4 separate regions of the Homo sapiens genome follow, and regions 1, 2 and 4 are each linked to region 3. Evidence: fine-mapped expression QTL. A gene starts in region 3. Each other region holds a variant in brackets. All regions are shown on one strand. Distances are between the middles of the regions.

What was found. PIP is the estimated chance that this variant, and not a neighbour inherited with it, causes the effect. A credible set is the group of variants that fine-mapping cannot tell apart.
Region 1: its variant is the best candidate, but not a certain one, in a credible set for the expression of IGFBP2 in damaged cartilage (Steinberg 2020, PIP 0.53).
Region 2: its variant is the best candidate, but not a certain one, in a credible set for the expression of IGFBP2 in atrial appendage (GTEx, PIP 0.58).
Region 4: its variant is the best candidate, but not a certain one, in a credible set for the expression of IGFBP2 in unexposed skin (GTEx, PIP 0.68).

The regions. Positions count from the first base shown.
Region 1 is chr2:216,552,404-216,555,085 of GRCh38, reverse strand. LOC101928180 (a long non-coding RNA gene) reads right to left here and starts at 1,034. Exons shown (of 2, transcript XR_427226.4): 1 at 1-1,034. RefSeq lists an enhancer at 1,643-2,154. The variant C/A (reference allele first, on the strand shown) is at 1,489.
Region 2 is chr2:216,545,952-216,548,633 of GRCh38, reverse strand. No RefSeq gene overlaps it. Among named protein-coding and RNA genes, the nearest start is that of RPL37A, 48 kb to the right of the region's middle. The variant C/T (reference allele first, on the strand shown) is at 1,375.
Region 3 is chr2:216,632,126-216,634,805 of GRCh38, reverse strand. It overlaps IGFBP2 (insulin like growth factor binding protein 2), which reads right to left and starts at 1,386. Exons shown (of 4, transcript NM_000597.3): 1 at 841-1,386. The coding sequence starts at 1,282.
Region 4 is chr2:216,559,970-216,562,651 of GRCh38, reverse strand. The region is part of intron 1 of LOC101928180 (a long non-coding RNA gene); the gene reads right to left. All of the region lies in intron 2 of LOC105373871 (a long non-coding RNA gene), which reads left to right. Among named protein-coding and RNA genes, the nearest start is that of LINC01280, 46 kb to the left of the region's middle. The variant A/C (reference allele first, on the strand shown) is at 1,438.

The DNA.
Region 1 (2,682 bases), 80 kb after region 3:
ACCTGGCCAGCCCCCACAGCATGGCTCCCTTCAGCCTCTGGGCTCTTCTCCTTCCACCTGTTCTGTCCTTAACAACCCTGAACAACCTCCAGTTCCCACAGGTCCCCAGGGCCTTTGTGAGCAAATGGAACATCCTGCCACTCCTCAGAGCCAGCTATAAACGCCAAATGATGTCAGGGAGCACTCAGGTGTTTCTGGCAAGAGAATTTGCCACTTTCTCTCCATGGGACTGATGAAGCAGAGGTGGGAGCTAGTCATGCTTTGTCTGGCCAGTGTGCAGCTCTGCCAGGACTGGTCTTCTCCTGGGACTTTAAGGCCCATAAACTCCTGAGAGGGGACCTCACAGATGGAGTCCAGCCATGGAGGGGTAGGAGGCTCAGCGCAGGGAAGTGGCTGTCTCAGAAAAGATGGGACTAGAACCCAGTTCTCCCAACTCGAAGTCAGGTGTTCCCTCCACCAGCCCATCTCCTAGGGTGCATTCTTTCCCTACTAGCCATGGAGCTTCTACTGTGAGCGAGGCTCTTACACACAGGGGAGCTCATATTTGATGAGAAAATGTTTCCAGTCCAACACCTCCACCCACAAAACCCTAATAGGGCATCTAAACATTTCCTGCAAAGAAGCCACAGCTCAGCAGGGCAGATCTGTGAAGCCAAGGTACACTGGGTCCTGTTCCAGAGCTCAACACCTCTCACCCACCCCACCAAAGGTGAAACTTCTCCAAAGTCCTCAGTGTCACCTTCTGTAAAGGATGGGAACCATGCTTTCTATGGTGTGATATATTCGAGGTTGATTTTCTGTAACAATGATGCTTCAAGTGAATTACCATTAAGTAAAAAGGATGATCCGGGAAGTCACGGTGTCCTGTGCCCCATACCACCCACTATGCCCCAAGCCCAGGATAAAAAGCACAGCCCAGTGTGGGGGTTTTGCTATAGCATTTGAGTTTTGAGACCAGATGGCCCCTGAATCCAGGGATCTGGGCAGGAGAGCCTGGAGCATTAGGGTTCTCCTACAGCCATAGAGCACGCCTTTCCAGGGTCACCCCAAACAGATGGACAAGCATCAGGGTGCCCAGGCAAAGGCACAAGTGAAGGCTGAAATTCTGCTTGGGGCCGAATGGCCAAAACATGTCCCTGCAGGCAGCAGGGACCTGTGCCCCTCATCCTTTTCCACCAGCAAACAGAATTCACCCTCCCAGTGTTCCTGGTGTATGATCTTTTAACAAATGTTTATTGAATACCAACTACGTACCTAAGACTGTTATAGACACTTGGAAAAAAGAGAAAAACAAACAAACAAAATCCCTGCCTCTGTGAAACTGATGTGCTAATGGAAGAGGCAATATGATGTCAGGGGTAATAAATTCTCTCAAGAAAAACAGAGTGGGGAGAGGATGGAAGACAGGGAGGCCGCCCTGGACACACTGGTCTGGGAGAGTCTCTGAGGCGGTGATGTCTACGCAGAGGCCTGAGTGGGGTAAAGGAA[C/A]CCGAGGAGACACCGTGGCAGTAAGATCCCAGCCAAGGGCACATCAAGACTCAGCGCCCTAGTGGGAGCGCATTTGTATTTGAGACTGGAACAAGTGAGCAAGGGAAGAGAAGTAGGAAATGAACCAGGGGCTCCTGCTCTCTGCACTGCATGGAACCTAAAACCAGGAAGATAGAACTAGCATTTGTTTAAGTGCTGAGTATACATCAGGCACCTCTCTTATTCAATTGCTAAAACCACCCTAGGAAGGAATATATAGGCTCAGAGGAACTACCAGATCACAATACTGAGTGACTAACTTGGAATTTGAACCCAGGAATGTGTGACTACACAGCCTGTTCTGTTTTCACTGTAGCCTCCTGGAGACAGGCTTTCTTTCAGGGTCCTGAGGCACTTTTATCTAAGCAGTCACTGTATGGGGCACATTGACCCACTGTCTGAGCCCAGGAGAAAACTGCGACAAGTGTCTGCCCTTTTGGCCATCAGCCTTAACAAAGGCAGATCACAAAGACTCACTCTTACCCATGTCCCGATCCCCCACCTGCCCCTCTTCCCAAGCCCCAAAAGGGCTATGGTTTGTGTACCCATGAGATATCCTGAGGCCAGAACAGAGAGAAACAGGACTGCTAGACAGACCTAGATTCCCAGGCTTCGAGTTCCCTCTTTCTTGGAACCAAAGGAAGATCAACTGCGAAGTCACATGAAGAGACACAGATGGGCTGAGCCAAAGCACAGCAAGCATGGTGCCCCCTTTTTTTTTTTTTTTTTTTTGGATGGAGTTTTGCTCTTGTCACCCAGGCTAGAGTGCAATGGTGTGATCTCAGCTCACTGCAACCTCCACCTACCAGGTTCAAGCAATTCTCCTGCCTCGGCCTCCCGAGTAGCTGGGATTACAGGCGTGCACCACCACACCCGGCTAATTGTTTGTATTTTTAGTAGAGATGGGGTTTCATTATGTTGGCCAGGCTGGTCTCGAACTCCTGACCTCAGGTGATCCACCCACCTCGGCCTCCCAAAGTGCTGGGATTACAGGTGTCAGCCACCGCATCTGGCCGTATGGTGCCATCTTTAGAACTGCAGAGAGCTCTGTGTCAATTCCATGGTTAGTGGCCTAGAAACCTTTGTTTTCTAGACTAAGGACTCTTGGGAATCACAGTCAGGGAACCAGAAGTGACTGAGATGAGATTAGTCAAC
Region 2 (2,682 bases), 86 kb after region 3:
TGAAAAGAGTAAAGCCCATTTGAGATGTTAAAGGCCTTGGCATGTTGAAAGGAAGTGTCTGCAGGGATCTATGAACTGAGAGGTTATCCAGCCATGGAGATGGGAAAATGAGGACTGTTCACCCTAGAACATCTTCCAGGGGGACCTAATGAGTAATGGGGCCAGAGTCATTTGTAATGTGCCACCGGACTGTGCTCATCCTCTTGGCTGCCAACACTCCTGCTTTCAGATGATAGCCCACTTTTTTCCATCAAAGGAACCACGACTTGACTACTCCCAAGGCTTGGTGATCCCAAGCATTCCAAGACCACCTGCTACAAGCCTCCATCAGAGCTATCAAGCAGCAACTGCAGACTCCTCCTGGAGGCAGGAAACAGTCACAGGCCCAAAGGGAGGTGAAGAGAGATCACTGAGGTGCTAGCTTAAAGCCTGGGAAGTGTGAAGCACCATCTCAACATGTAGGTTTCAACTGCAGTCTCAGTGAGCCCTGGAATCCCACTGGGGTGTCTTGGTCAGAGATTGGAGGAGGCCAGAACTGGTTCCGCATCTCCCACCCCTGCCTCAACCACAGCATCTCTGATGTTATTGGTCTTAAATATTGGGATGTTTTGTTTGCAAAAAGAGTTCTATGACTCTAAAAATGTTTATGAAACACTTGTCTGCACTAGTAAATTTTATTTTTAAAAAAAAGCATACAGAAGAAAAACTAATTGCACTTAAGACTTTAGAATCATATATCACATCCAACAGAAGAATTCTACTAGGAAAAATGCCCAAGCTGTTGCCCCCAAACTAACGTAACATGCTCATAAATGGCATCTGCCTTTATATTCTTGCTATTTCTTTATTTAGCTTTCCCCATTCTCTCAATTCCTAAGTACTAGAACAGGTAGAGATGCTGCTATTTAGGAAAATATTCCCTGAGTATCCTCCTCTAGGCCACTGCAGACCCTTCTCGCAGCTCTGTTTTGTGCATCTTCCATACTTAACACTTAGTACTGCAGGTAGATCTAGACTATGAACACCTTGAGGACAGGGATCATGTCTAATTCCATCAATCTATGTGGCCCATGTTTAAGCACAGTGCCAGTAACTCAGGAGGAGTTTGAGAGACCTGAATGAATGAATGAATGAATGCATGAATGAAGACACTTCTGCACAAATGTATAATTTCCTGGTTTCTCTTCTGTAAGTAAGTTAACATCTTCTATGTTTTGTTTTGTTTTTTCTTCTAGGTCACAGAGGGCTAATGCTGTAAATTCTCTCTCAGGGGAAAGCTGGGCAGACACACTTGGGAACATTTAAAAAACTAGGTTGGCATTGGAGAGGAAACAGCCAATATATTTAGCCACCCATGGCATGCCAAGGCCTTAT[C/T]GAGACAGAAATAGGCACTGTAGGAGGAATCTCAATTAAATATTTTTCTAAGCAGTCAGCTCTGGGCTTTGCCTGAACATGGATAGAGAGCTGGGGTGAAGCACAGGACAGAAAGCCAAGAAGATCTCAGTGGGGCTTCTGAATCATCCTGGGGCTTAACTGCTAGCAATGTAAAACTGGTGACCCCAGGGGGCAGGGGTGCTGGCCTACCTTCCATGTCCAAGGAGCAGGACAACCTCCCTGCAGGCACTTTCCAGAATCCCACACATTTGGGGGACCCATCCTCTCCGCCATACCTACTCTTAAGTGGCAGCAAGTATCCGGAATATTCTTCCTATGAGCTTTACCCAACTGTTTCCAATAGTCAACACTCCCTAAGAATCGGTCTTATCCAGAAAGTACTCCTGGAATGACTTGAGGAGAAACACAATGACGCTTTGGGCATAGAATTCCACCCTGCAGCCTAGTTATCTTTTCTTTGTTAAAATATGCAGCACTTCAATCCAGAGACATAGGGACAACTGCCCTGAATTGACTGGGGTATGAGGATGGGCTCCAGTGCTGGGCAGGGTGAGAGTGGGAGGGGGTACCTGGCGGGGGTGCAGACAGTCCGGTGCAGAATGCACGTATGAATAATAACAAATCTCTCTTTTTTTTCATATGTGGGCTTTTCCAAATATGGAAAACAGCTTTTCCCACTTAAAAATGTATCATCAACTTTTTCCCATGTCATTGCATGTTCTTTTACAATGTGATTGTTAACATCTATATAGCATGCCCTCATTTGGAAGTCATTTTATTTAGCCCATCTCCAGCTGTTAAGCATTTAGATTGTTTCCTGTTATTATCACACTATGATGAACACGCTCAGGGTGACCGTTGTGTTAATTTCTAATCATTTCAAGAAGCAGGCTAGCTGGGGGTTAAGAACAAGGGTCTTGCAGCTGTTCTTCCCAATCTCAATCCCAGTGTCATAACTTGTTCCTTGTTAGACCTTGCTCACATGACTTGGTCTCCACATGCCTCATTTTCTTCATAGTAAAAAGTATCTATTAATACTTACTTTATAGGGTTGTCTTAGGGATTAAATATGTTAATAAATATAAGTGCTTAAAACAATGCCACTTTTAACGCTGTGTATGGTTGAGAAAGTACTCAGTAAACTTTAATTATGATATCTTTGGATTATATTCCTTGAATAATTTCTGGGTCAGCAAATTTGCATATTTTAAGGCCTTTGAAACATATTGCCCAACTGGATTAGGCCAATTTACATTCCCGTAAGCAATCTATAAACACATCGGGTTG
Region 3 (2,680 bases):
CTATCCTACAGGAAAGGGTCCCTCAATTTAAGATAGGGGCGGGGGTGGGGGGTGGCAACGCATCTCTCCTGCCTTTCGATCTGGGGCCCAGATGCGAAACCGCACAGCCTGGCTGCCCCCGTCCAGGGAATGCAGCCGGCGATCGGGCTTAAGTTACATTGATTCAGCTGCTAGGAGACCCCTCGCCTACCAAATGCCTCCCTTTTATTTTTCCATTCAACGTGGTAGCAAGAGCCCTGCTCGTTCCCTATGGAGAAATAGTAGTGGTGGTTTTCATTTTTCTCCTAAGCGACTCATCCTACAAAGTACCAAGTCCTTTCTTTCCAACTCACAACCCCAGTAGAAGGAAGGGCCCCTTGGGACGCCGGTGCCTCCTCCTAGCTCCCTCTCCTCTTCCAAGGTTCCTGGTGTCACTGGCACCCCGCAGCCTCCGCCTCCCAGCAGCGATCCCACCAGGACCCTTGGGTCCTCAAGCAGTGCCCCAAATAAGATTCGAGTTCCTACTCCCATGGATCTGACCACCGGCCCCCTTCTCAGCAAATCCCTCCTCCAGAATAGAAGTCTGGGTCCGTTCCACGCGGGTAAAACTATGGCAGCAGGGATGCCTTTCCTCTCCCCATTCATCCCCACCAAATGAGTCGCCAGGGCTCTTCCACTTGCTCTAACTCCAGTTCCCCTCCCCGGGCCTGACTTCCGCGTCCCGCTAGCAACAGTCCCCCTTGATTTGGTCCAAGGTCTCGGCTCTGCCGCCCCTAAAACCGTCCGTAAGGTCCAGCCGCCCGTCGGGCTTCTCCGCTGCCCTCCAAGTTTCTCCCAACTACTTGTTCCAGACCGCGTTACCTGCAACCTGCTCCGGGCTGGCGCCATACTCGGCGTCCCGGCGCTTCTCACAAGTGCCCTCGCCCATGACCAGCGCCTGCAGGGGCAGCTCGGAGCCCGGGTGGGGATAGCAGCGCAGCCCCTGGCCGCAGCGCGGGGTGTAGACGCCGCACGCCTCGCCCTCCAGCCGGGCGCACACCGAGCAGCAGCCGCAGCCCGGCTCCCGGACGAGCTCCGCGCATGGCATGCGGGCGCCTCCGGCCACTGCGGCCACCGCGGCGGGCGGCGCAACCGGCGGGGGCCCGCAGGCGGCCAGGCGCTCGGGTGTGCAGGGCGGGCAGCGGAACAGCACCTCCGCGCGCGCCCCGCCGCCGCCGCCACTCGCGCCCAGTAGCAGCAGCAGCAGCGGCAGCAGCGGCGGCGGCGGCAGCGGCAGCGCGGGGCAGCCCACTCTCGGCAGCATGCTGGCGGTCGGCAGCGCGGCGCGGCGGGCGAGCGAGCGAGCGGGCGGGCGGGCAGGTGGCACGGCCCTGCGAGCGCGGGAGCCGCCTCCTCCGCTTCTTCCTCCTCCCTCGCCGCCGCAGCCGGGTCCTAAAGGGCCGGCTTCTCCCCGCCCCCTGCCTTCTCCCCTCCCCCTTTTGGAGACCACTCCCTTCCCCCCCGACACTCCCTCGCGCCGGCAAGTGAGTGCGCGCACGCCCGCTCGCCCACCTCCGCGTTGGCTGCGGGCTCTGGGGGTTCCCTGCTCTTCCCGGGCCCCGTCCCTCCGCACTCTTCTGGCCTGACTATGACTCCTGAAGGAGAATACGGATAACTCGCGGGTTTGGGTAGGACCGGCGTGGCGGTGGAGAAGAGCGCGTGCTTTTGTCTGCTCTCAGTTCAGTTCGCGAGGACTTCGTTTGCGCGCTTCCCCTGTGGCCGGCACTGGGCTAACCGCTGGGGAACACAAAAGACATAAGGCTCCGTTTTGACCTTCAAGTAGATTTCAGTCGGCTCATACCAACTCCTTCCATCCTGGGGTATCACCCACCACTGACACGTGGCTTGGAACAATGACTTCTTGTTGGGTGGGTCCTGCGGAGTTTCAGACCCGTCTAGACCAAGCTAGACCCAAACAGCCCCGAATGGTCTTAGTGACTATTGCAGTTTTCCAAACCTGGGAGCTCGTGACTACAACCTATGAGAACCCTAAGTGCCCCGCAAAACCTGCCCCCTTCGTCTGCAGACCCCCTCCCTTCTCCGCCCGCTAAAATAATCCCTTAGCACCCTGGGCCCCCACCTACAAATCTCGAGGCACTTGTTGCAGGACAGATCCCAGAACACTCAGTTGCAGGGGTCTTGGAGAGGTCAGATCAGCTCTCCAGGTGTGACAGACCCGCTCTGGGGTAAGGCCATTTATGGCTGTCTTCAATAATGCAGATGGACAAGCATGACCTCCTTTCATTGTTCTGTTTGATTTACTGAGTCATCTACCCAAGCTGCCCCCAACCCCCATCATTCCAGGCTGGACTCAGCCATAATCAACCATCTCCTGGGGTGTGACCCTAACAAAGACCCCTGTCAGAGAGATTCCTTGGGTGACAGGTGGACCATTAAGCTGCCTCCACCGCAGGTTTCATCTCCCTATACCTCAGCGCCCCTCTTCCCCCCAGACCCCTCCACTCTGGCTCTTTCTGACTTCAAGGCTCAGAGCCTGTTTGATTCAGTTCAACAGCTAGTTAACCCAATGGCCACCTGGCTCTGAAGGTGACCTAGATGCCTCCAGGAAGGCAAGTACCTGGTCTTAAGACGCCAAGCTGGGAAGAGTTATCGGGAAAGACTTTGGTAAGATAAAAAATAAATAAATAAATGTTTATCAGAG
Region 4 (2,682 bases), 72 kb after region 3:
GAATGGAGTGGAGGCATGATGCGGCGACATTCTTTCACCAGGCCCTGCTTTTCTCTGCTCATCTCAGTTCTGCTCACTCTGCTTGGCTCCACCTCAGACCTGTTCTCCCTGGGGGCAGCAAGATGGCCCCGGTTCCCACTCCCAGCCCCATTCCAATTCCAATGAAAGTGTCAGAATTGAAGTCTTTTTTTTCTTCTTCTTCTTTTTCTTTTGAGACAGAGTTTCACTATTGTTGCCCAGGCTGGAGTGCAATGGCACCATCTCGGCTCACTGCAACCTCCACCTCCAGGGTTCAAGGGAGTCTCCTGCCTCAGCCTCCCAAGTAGGTGGGATTACAGGCATGTGCCACCATGCCTGGCTAATTTTGTATTTTTGGTAGAGACAGGGTTTCTCCATGCTGGTCTCGAACTCCTGATCTCAGGCGATCCGCCCTCCTCAGCCTCCCAAAATGCTGGGACTACAGGCGTAAGCCACCACGCGCCCAGTCTAAAATGAAGCTTTTTTTTTTTTTTTTTTTTTTTGAGACGGAGTCTTACTCTGTCGCCCAGGCTGGAGTGCAGTGGCGCCATCTCGGCTTACTGCAAGCTCTACCTCCCGGGTTCATGCCGTTCTCCTGCCTCAGCCTCCCGAGTCGCTGGGACTACAGGCGCCTGCCACCATGCCCAGCTAATTTTTTGTATTTTTAGTAGAGATGGGGTTTCACCATGTTATCCAGGATGGTCTCCATCTCCTAACCTTGTGATCCGCCCGCCTCGGCCTCCCAAAGTGCTGGGATTACAGGCGTGAGCCACCACACCGGGCAAAATGAAGCTTTTAATGGCAAAGGACAAAACGTGATATCAGAAAGTTTTCAGATGGCTCTTGCTGCACTTGCCACACTACACCAACTTGGTGCTTTGCTTCTACCTCTTTCACCAGACAGCATGTTCCATTGAGGCAAGAATCTAACTTTCTTATTTATCATTGCATCCTTGGCATCTAGCACCATGCAGGGAACATAGCATCAAAAACAGTTGCTGAGGCCAGGTGCAGTGGCTCACGCCTGTAATCCCAGCACTTTAGGAGGCCGAGGTGGGCAGATCACAAGGTCAGGAGATTGAGACCATCCTGGCTAACACGGTGAAACCCCATCTCTACTAAAAACACAAAAAATTAGCCAGGCATGGTGGCATGCTCCTGTAGTCCCAGCTACTCGGGAGGCTGAGGCAGGAGAATCGCTTTAACCAGGAGGCAGAGGTTGCAGTGAGCCGAGATCACACCACTGCACTCCAGCCTGGGCGACAGAGTGAGACTCCGTCTCAAAAACAACAACAACAACAACAACAACAAAACAGTTGTTGAAGGAAGAGAAAAAGGAAAGAAGGGTTAACTTGAATAGGGGCTGGGCTCTGGGTATTCTGACCCCAGAGAAGTCTTGCTCACCCAAAGGCTCCCATT[A/C]TATGACCTCATAGAATAAGAAATCATCAGGCTTAGTCCAGGCCCGGTGGCTCATGCCTAGAATTCCAGCACTTTGTGAGACAGAGGAGGGAGTTTCGCTTGAGCCTAGGAGTTGGAGACCAGCCCAGGCAACATAGCAAAATCCTGTTTCTATTAGAAAAAAGAAAAAAAGAAAAGTTAAAAGAAATTAAAAAATAATCAGGCTCTCAAAATGTCTCCAAAGTACACCGGGGGAAAAATAAGAGTAACTCTGGCCCAGGGTCCAGGCATAGGAGAGCAAGTGTGCTTCTTTCTGAAACAAGCAGCCTTACTGGATGCACTCTCCTGGGTGGGCTGGATGACCATGTAGTGGAAGTCAGCCTCTCTCTATTCCAGGAAGGGAAAAGTTGAGCTGGAGATAGAACGATGGTCCATCTAGGGGAAAAGATAATCAACTCTCTGGCCGTATTTTAGTTTTAACTAGATCTCCATTTGCTCTCCACCTTGGCAGAACAATGTTAACAAATGCCTTTCTTTTTCATCCAGATATTCCCCAGATGGTTTCATGAGTCCCTGAATGGTGTATGTTTTGGCATAAATCTACCCACAGGACCTTTAAAAGGTCATATCCCTAAGCAAATTCAATAAAACAAAATGAACAAGTCCTTGGGACAAACTGGAATTGTCTCCAAATCTAATATTGAGGCCTGATACACTTTTTCAAAATGGAAGCTGCCCCAGTAGCCGCTGCAGAAAATGTGTTGAATTTATTCATCCATGAAGGCAGAGGGCTGGAAGTGCAGGAAAACTAAGGGTTGGAGAAACTCTTTTCTCCCAAGCCAACAAAACCAAGCAAGTTTGAGAGAAGGAAAGAGTTATTCTTGACTGAGAAGAGGTGGATGAACGTGGGAGGGAAGCAGAAGAGAGATGAGAAAAGTTTCCTACCCCCTGGTTCAGTGAGATGGAGAGAAGGGAGGAGAGGGGAGGGGGAGGGAGGGGGAGGGGAGGGGAGGGGAGGGGGAGGACAGAGGGAGGAGAGGGGAGGGGGAGGGGAGGGGGAAGGGAGAAGGAAGGGGAAGGGGAATGGGAAGGGAGGCGAAAGGGATGGGGAAGAGAGGGGAGGGGAAGGTGATGGGGAAGAGAGGGGAGGGGAAGGGGATGGGGAAGAGAGGGGAGGGGAAGGGGATGGGGAAGAGAGGGGAGGGGAAGGGGAAAGGAAGAGGAAGATGGGTACACAGAAAGACCTGCAGGGCCACTAGAACACCT